Linked DNA regions of Homo sapiens. The protein of the gene in region 2 purifies or fractionates together with the protein of the main gene of each other region. This does not show direct contact. Each region holds a gene or a part of one and is shown on either strand. Other genes may lie near its edges.

The links.
Region 1: the proteins of PID1 (region 2) and RIPK4 purify together in Homo sapiens (affinity purification with mass spectrometry, with the first as the bait; one large-scale study listed by BioGRID). This does not show direct contact.

What each region holds. Positions count from the first base shown.
Region 1 is NC_000021.9:41,756,952-41,760,771, forward strand, and holds part of RIPK4 (receptor-interacting serine/threonine-protein kinase 4), read right to left. Parts: intron 1-3,820.
Region 2 is NC_000002.12:229,152,521-229,156,340, reverse strand, and holds part of PID1 (PTB-containing, cubilin and LRP1-interacting protein), read left to right. Parts: intron 1-376; coding exon 377-523; intron 524-3,820. UniProt on the Homo sapiens protein: Increases proliferation of preadipocytes without affecting adipocytic differentiation.

The DNA.
Region 1 (3,820 bases), on a different chromosome or scaffold from region 2:
AATGTCACATCACGAATGCAGGGCTTTCCAGAGTCTCAGTCCTGAGGCTGCTGAAATGTACCTATGCATCACAGGGTTATCACAAGTGAGGAGGAGGGAAATTCTAATCGTTTTACAGGTAGCACTGATAACACATGTGGGGGGTCCACGTGTGTGAATAATTCCACAGGCAGCCATGAGCCAAGGCTTGGGGGTCTCAGAGACTGCAGGTGCAGGCCGATAATCCCTTCTCCTGGGAGGAGGGAAGAGAAGTTGACGTTCCACTCAAGGTTGTAACTAGGCAACTAGGCCGGGCACGGTGGCTCATGCCTGTAATCCCAGCACTTTGACAGGCCAAGGCGGATGGATCACCTGAGGTCAGGAGTTCGAGACCAGCCTGGCCAACATAGTGGAACCCCCGTCTCTACTAAAAATACAAAAATTAGCCGGGCATGGTGGCAGATGCTTATAATCCCAGCTACTCAGGAGGCTGAGGCAGGAAAATCACTTGAACCAGGGAGGCAGAGGTTGCAGTGAGCTGAAATCATGCCACTGCACTCCAGCCTGGGCAACAAAGTAAAACTCCATCTCAAAAAAAAAAAAAAAAAGTTGTAACTAGTTATGTTCAAGGAACCCAACTCACCTTCTCCGTTTAAGCCCAATACCTGAGTTGGCCCAGTTATTCCTGAATCCAACCTCACACTCAAACTAATGAAACAGCATAGGTCCAAAGCATGGGGTTGCCAACAGCCAAATCCAACCAGCCATTTTTTAAAATAAAAAATATAGGCCGGGTGTGATGGCTCATGCCTGTAATCCCAGCACTTTGGGAGGCCGAAACAGGCAGATCACAAGGTCAGGAGTTCGAGACCAGCCTGATCAACATGGTGAAACCCTGTCTCTACGAAAAATACAAAAATTAGCTGGGCGTGGTGGCGCCTGCCTGTAATCCCAGCTACTCAGGAGGCTGAAACAGGAGAATCACTTGAACCTGGGAGGCGGAGGTTACAGTGAGCCGAGATCGCGCCATTGCACTCCAGCCTGGGCGACACAGAGAGACTCCATAACAAAAAAAAAAAAAAAAAAAAAAAATATATATATATATATATATAGAGAGAGAGAGAGAGAGAGAGAGAGAGAGAGAGAAAATGTAGTCAAATAGACATAACATAGTATTTATTATTTTAGCCATTCACAGGTGTACAATTCCCTGACATTACCCACATTCACAATGTGGTACAACCATCACCACTATCTACACCCAAAACTTTTCCATCATCCTCAACAAAAATTCTGCACCCATTAACCAATAACTCCTTCCCTCATCCCCATCCTCAGTAACCTCTTTTCTACATTCTAGGCAAATTCATATAAGCATAAGCATATAAAATTTGCCCTTCTGTGTCTGGCTTATTTCATTAAGCATGTTTTCAGGGTCTATTCACACTGTAACATATATCAAAACTTCCTTTTCATGGCTGAATAATATTCTGCTGCACGAATGTACTGCGTTTTGTTCATCTGTTCGTGGGTGCAGGCCATTTCCACCTTTTGGCTCTCGTGGATAATGCTGCACATCTGCACACATTGGGGGACAAACGCCTGGAGTCGTGGCTTTCAATTCTTTTCGATACATACCTAGGAGCAGAATTGCTTGGTCACAGTCTATGTGTCACATTTTGAGAAACTGCCAAATGGTTGCCCACAGCGTGCCACCACCTTGTTTGTATAAATAAACTTTTACTGGAAGAAAGTCTCACTCATTCATTTAAACACTGGCTGTGGCTGCTTTTGCACTTCAAAGGGGAGAGGAGTCCTTGCAACAGAGGCCCTGCGGCCTGCAAAGCCTAAAATGTTGCCTCTCTAGGCCTTCGTGGAGAAAGCTGACCAACCTCTGGTCTAAGGTCACTTCCCTGGTGCAGCCTGTGTTTTCACAGACTAGAATCCCAGTGCAATGGTCTGTATTGGCATCATGGGTCAAAAGTCTCAGAATGCGTTCAGAGTAAGAGGCTGAATCCCACGGACGCACGCTGGCCATGCAGGATCGAGATCAGCAGCCCCAAACACAGACATGGTAGAAAGCACCCAGGAAGCTGGCTGGAATGCTGGTTCCCAGGCCTCACTCCTTGAGAATGCATTCCAGGTTGGGGCTGGAAAATCTGTTTTTTTGTTTGTTTTTCTTTTTTGAAACAGAGTCTCGCTCTGTTGCCCAGGCTGGAGTGCAGTGGCATGATCCTAGCTCACTGCAACCTCTACCTCCCAGGTTCAAGTGAGTCTCATGCCTCAGCCTCCAGGGTAGCTGGGATTACAGGTGTGCCACACTCAGCTAATTTTTTGTATTTTTAGTAAAGATGGGATTTTGCTGTTTGCCAGGGTGGTCTTGAACTCCTAGGCTCAAGTGATTTGCCTGCCTCAGCTCCCAAAGTGCTAGGATTACAGGCATGAGTCACCGTGCCCAGCCAATCTGCTTTCTAATAATATAATAAGCTCCCTAAAGGAAATGTTCAGAACCACACTAGGAGAGATCCGACCTCCTATAGCAGGAAACCCAGCAGCTCCATGTCCACACACAGGCCACGCAAGGCAGCTGGCTGGGGTGGCCTCCAGACAATTCCCCCAGAATCCAGCGTCCAGCCCAAGTCCCTGCCTATAACCCAGTGTCCGCTGCCACAGCAGGGGGCTCTTCTGGAGCTCGGACACAGGCCTGCTCCTCCCAGTGACAAACCCGGGAGCAGGTGCTGGGAAATCACTCAGTGGCTCCCATTTCCTCGCCTGCTGGTGAATCCAAAACAGTGCCAACAGAACGCATCCATTTCTTAATGATCTGACCGCCCCTGCGAGAGTTCAGCCCCTCCTAGGCTTCCCTTACCATAGTGAAAACACTTTCCCTGCAGGAAAGGCCAGCAGGAACCCCTGGATCCTACTGTTTAGCTCTTGCTGTGGAAATTCCCATACATCGGACAGGTACCAAAGGCTCGGAGATCTCAGCCTGTCTGCCCCCCAACAATGCAAGCCCTGCAGCTAGGGCTCTGCGTCTCAGGACATAGCCCACTGGTTCTCAATTAGAGGCAACTTCACCCCCCAAGAAACACTGGGCAATGTCTGGAGAGATTCTGGCTGTCACAACTAAAGGATGCTACTGAACATCCTACAATGCATAAGACAGCCCCAAGGCTAAGAATTACTCAGCCCCAAATGCCAACGGTGCCAAGTTGAATAACCCCGATGTAAATCAAGTGAGTGCATTTTCAGCCAATAAACTACTACTGTCCAGAATCACCACTTCAGTATTCCCAGCACTCACCTGACCTATATTTTAAGCAGTTCTGTGTATTGGCAAGTGCTCGCTTGAATCCACCATATGTCAGAACTAAGGACAAGAGGTCCCTTTCCCGCCTTCATGGTGTTTACGTGTACCCTCTAAGGAAGAAGATGGCGAACTACCCCCAAAAGAGAAGTGTGGTTGAAAAATCTAAGCCTCTTGAAAGGAAGGTCCAGGGAGCTATGGAGAATCAAGAGAGATCCAAAGTCAGAAGTCAGCATAGGAAAGGGCCCCTGAGAGAATCGGGAAGGCTGAGACCTGCGCAGAGTCCAGGGGCACCCGGGAGGCCAGCAGAGCGGAGCAGTCGCTGTGGATCCCCTTGGGCTTGGCAAAGCAGAGAGGGGAAGCCAGCAGAGCACACACACTCTGTTGGAAGAATCTGCAGGATGGGTCCATTGACTGCATGTGGAGGGGAGAAGCTTGCAGGACCTCTCTGGAGCTGCACCAGGGGTCACTAGGCAGCTCTCTACGGTGGACGCGGGAGCACCCCAGGAGGAGCAGCTGGGGGGTGTGGGGGGT
Region 2 (3,820 bases):
TTCCCAAAATAACCCCTATAACATCCTCTTCCAAACATCTTATGTAGCTGAATCTGCATGGATTCCATTGCCACAATTTCATCTGTATACAGTACGTTGGAAGAGCTTCTCAGAACATAATGTCCTGGGTGAGGTGACTTTACCACTAAGTCATGTTTCTGTGGACTCTGCTTAGGAATTGACTGTCTCCACAGTTTCATCTGAGTGACGTCCTGACAGGACACAGTTCCCCCTCCTCTGTTTTACTAAATATCTCTTGGCCTCCCCTAATAGAACAGAGTCAATAAAACAAGTTGCTACTGGGTTTAATGTACAATTGCAGGACATAAAAGTCCAAGTGATTAAACTACATGTGGCTTATTTTTCTGCTTTTCAGCACTTTCAGACCATGCTGAAGTCTAAATTGAATGTCTTAACACTGAAAAAGGAACCTCTCCCAGCGGTCATCTTCCATGAGCCGGAGGCCATTGAGCTGTGCACGACCACACCGCTGATGAAGACAAGGACTCACAGTGGCTGCAAGGTATGGGGCACGTGGCCAGCAGGGGTTCTCTTGGTGAGATAGCCTCAAAGATGTGTGGGCTTGAGACCTATGTTTCACAATGGTAATCATTTTTAAGAATGAAAATATAAAATGACCAACAAAATAAATTCACAGAGTGATGGTAGACTGAATTCATATCCTGTTTTATTTTTCTAAATGACCTAACACTATCACTTTTGGACACGCATTAAAGACCTAGGGTTTTTTTGTTTTTGTTTTTTTTTGAGACGGAGTCTCGCTCTGTCGCCCAGGCTGGAGTGCAGTGGTGTGATCTCGGCTCACTGCAAGCTCCGCCTCCTGGGTTCACATCATTCTCCTGCCTCAGCCTCCTGAGTAGCTGGGACTACAGGCTACAGGCACCCGCCACCATGCCCGGCTAATTTTTTGTCTTTTTAGGAGAGACGGGGTTTCACCATGTTAGCTAGGATGGTCTCGATCTCCTGACCTCATGATCTGCCCACCTCAGCCTCCCAAAGTGCTGGGATTACAGATGTGAGCCACCAAGCCCGGCCTAAAGACCTAGGTTTTAGTATATATGAATAAAATTGTATTCTCTCTGTGATTTCTGTAGCTCTGTGGAACTTTGGAGTTCACAAGAAAAGTTTTGTTCTTAATGATAATTCTTCCCTTTGTTCTTTCAATCTGAATAAAACATATCTTGAAGAATGAAAAAAACATAAAAAATCAAGTTTTCTAACAGTTATACTCTCCAAATCCTTTAGGGATAATTTTGCAGTTTTTGCTTTGCTTCAGCTCTCAAAATTTATACTAATATTCATGCCTCAGAATCCAGAAAAAGCATTTTCATTTATGCAAACTTTAATGCCAACGTGGAAACAAAACTAGAAATGAAATGTATAATTTTGGTAAGCTTTGGATTTTTTCTCACACGATACTCTCTTTTGCTTGAGTTGATGAATATAGTAATCAATTTAGAGATCACAAAGAAAATATGTTTTATGGATGTTTTATCATCAGAAATTTGTTTTGAGTAGTGGAAATAAAATCAGAGACAAGGAAAGTGCTTTTGTATATGGATTTCTTTCATAGCTTTGTAGATATACTCCTTTCCTTGATGCTTTCCTTATTGCTTTCGAGATATACTCCTTTTCCTTATTGCTTAGTGTGAAGGAATCAGTTCTCGCATAGCTGTGGTCAGGTTGGCGTCTACAGCGATCTTGGGTGATGGTGGTATGCACAAAACCTCATCCACATTCATTCATTCCACACATACTCATTGGGTGCTCACTGTCTGACCGGCATAGTGTCACAGTGTGGGCAAAACCCACCAGCATCTTTGTGGGATTTAACTGCTCACTGAGGGGCATGGGAGGAGAAAATCTAGGTAAACAAGCATGGTTAGTGAGAAATCCAATTTGTGAAGAACCTGCAGGAGAATCTTTCAGGCGAAAGAATAGGGCGTACTAATTCTATGAGGTGGGTGGTCTTGGTGTGTTTGGGAACAACAGGGAATGGGCCAGTGTACCTGAGAACTTGAGAAAGTTGTGATGAGTGGTGGCGCTGGGGGTGGGGGGAAAAGAGTCTTGTGGTCATGGCGAGAAGTTTAGGTTTCATTCTAATTATGATGGGGGAATCATCAGTGGAATAAGGCAAGTGAGCTATGTGACTCATTTTAAAGTGATTTTAAATGGTAATTCTGATAAGGAGAACTTCCAACTTCCCAAGAGCTATTGTCAGTGGCTCTGCCTTAACAGGAGAGAGTGAATCAACAGAACTGGCGTTAGGTACATTACATTTAATGCTTTTGGTGAATTGATGATACAAGGGAATTATAAATTTGAAAGTGATATGAGATCAAATTCGTTATACATTCTTCAGGAGATTTATTAATGCTATTTTGATTTCTGTTCCTATGAGGAAAGATGGTGCCTCAAAGCAAGATGAAATCAGTAGGGACAAGTATATGGAGGAGAATTAAGTGTGATAAAGCCTATAAAGTATGTTTAAAACGGGAAGGGCAAAAACTACACAGTTTTAAAATAAAAATACCTAGCAATCTAACAATCTAATGTAGATATTAAATAAATGTGTGTGTGTTTGTAAGAGAGAGAAAAATATTTGCTAGAATAAAAACCATCATTTTTCTGAAAAGGATTATAGGGTTCATGTCTCATGGACTAATTTTTTCTGTGTGCTGCCTTAGGTTGTACTCATTTATTTTACTTTTAAAAGGACGTTGAAAAAAAAATAGTAGGAAATCAGAAGAGTGTGCCAAAGAGGGCAAGGGTTCCGCTGGCCTCGGTATGTGTGGCTAGCTAGACAAAGGAAATCGACAATGATTTCATTTGGACACCAGGAAGAACTTCTGCATTCAAGGAGAAAAACACATTCCACCGGGCTATATAAAGTTTATGGACTCTCCATCCCTAGAAACCTTGAAGAGGCGATTCCAGGCATAGATAATCATGACCCTGGAGTCAGGAATCTGGGCCAACACCTCTTGAGGGCTTTTCCAGCGTTATTATTCTATCTGAAGGAAGAAAACCTGCAACGTGTAATTCTCCAAATTGTATACTATTGACAGAATACACTTAAGTTTTGACTGGAAACGTACTGGTGTTTTATTCTTTAATTCTCAAAGACAGTGTCACTTTTGTGTTCTGAGTTTTGTTAAAAAAATCTATTTGAACCTTGAAATGTTGGTTTAAAATCCTTTTAGATCTTCCCCAATTTTTTCTGATCATCTTCAAGAACAAAGTCCAGTGTTTCCTCTCTGATTCTTGCTAGTAACTTAGCTCACAAGATGCCAGCTGCAGAAGGAACGCTCTCTCGGGCTCACGCCTCCCAGGAATAATGAACACAATGTAGCCCGGGCCCAGCTGCAGGGCCAGCTCACGGGACCCTCCGCCTTCACACAGTAGTCACTCTTTTTTCCTAATAGCTCTTATAACTTTGGGTTTGGGGAGGGAAAGAGGCAGGAGGAAGCAAAGGAAAGGGGGAGTTGAAAATGGGTTATGGCGAGCACCACTGAGACCCTAGCTCATCTCAGATTTCCCATTTTCTGCTGATCTGTATTCTCCGTGGGTCCTGACGGGATTGCCTTGCTAGGCTATTCATGTTTCGGGCAGCTGGGTCTTTGTGTGTTCTCCTCTATTGCTGCCACTTTTTTTTTTTTTTCTGGAGTAGAGTTATTTAACTGTACAACCCACTGCAGTGCATTAGGACTCTTGTTGGAGCTGTTTGGAGTATCAGACGCTGTGTGTGATTTTGCTGCAGCAATGATGGCTTGTCACACCTTTCTCCTCCTATCTAGCA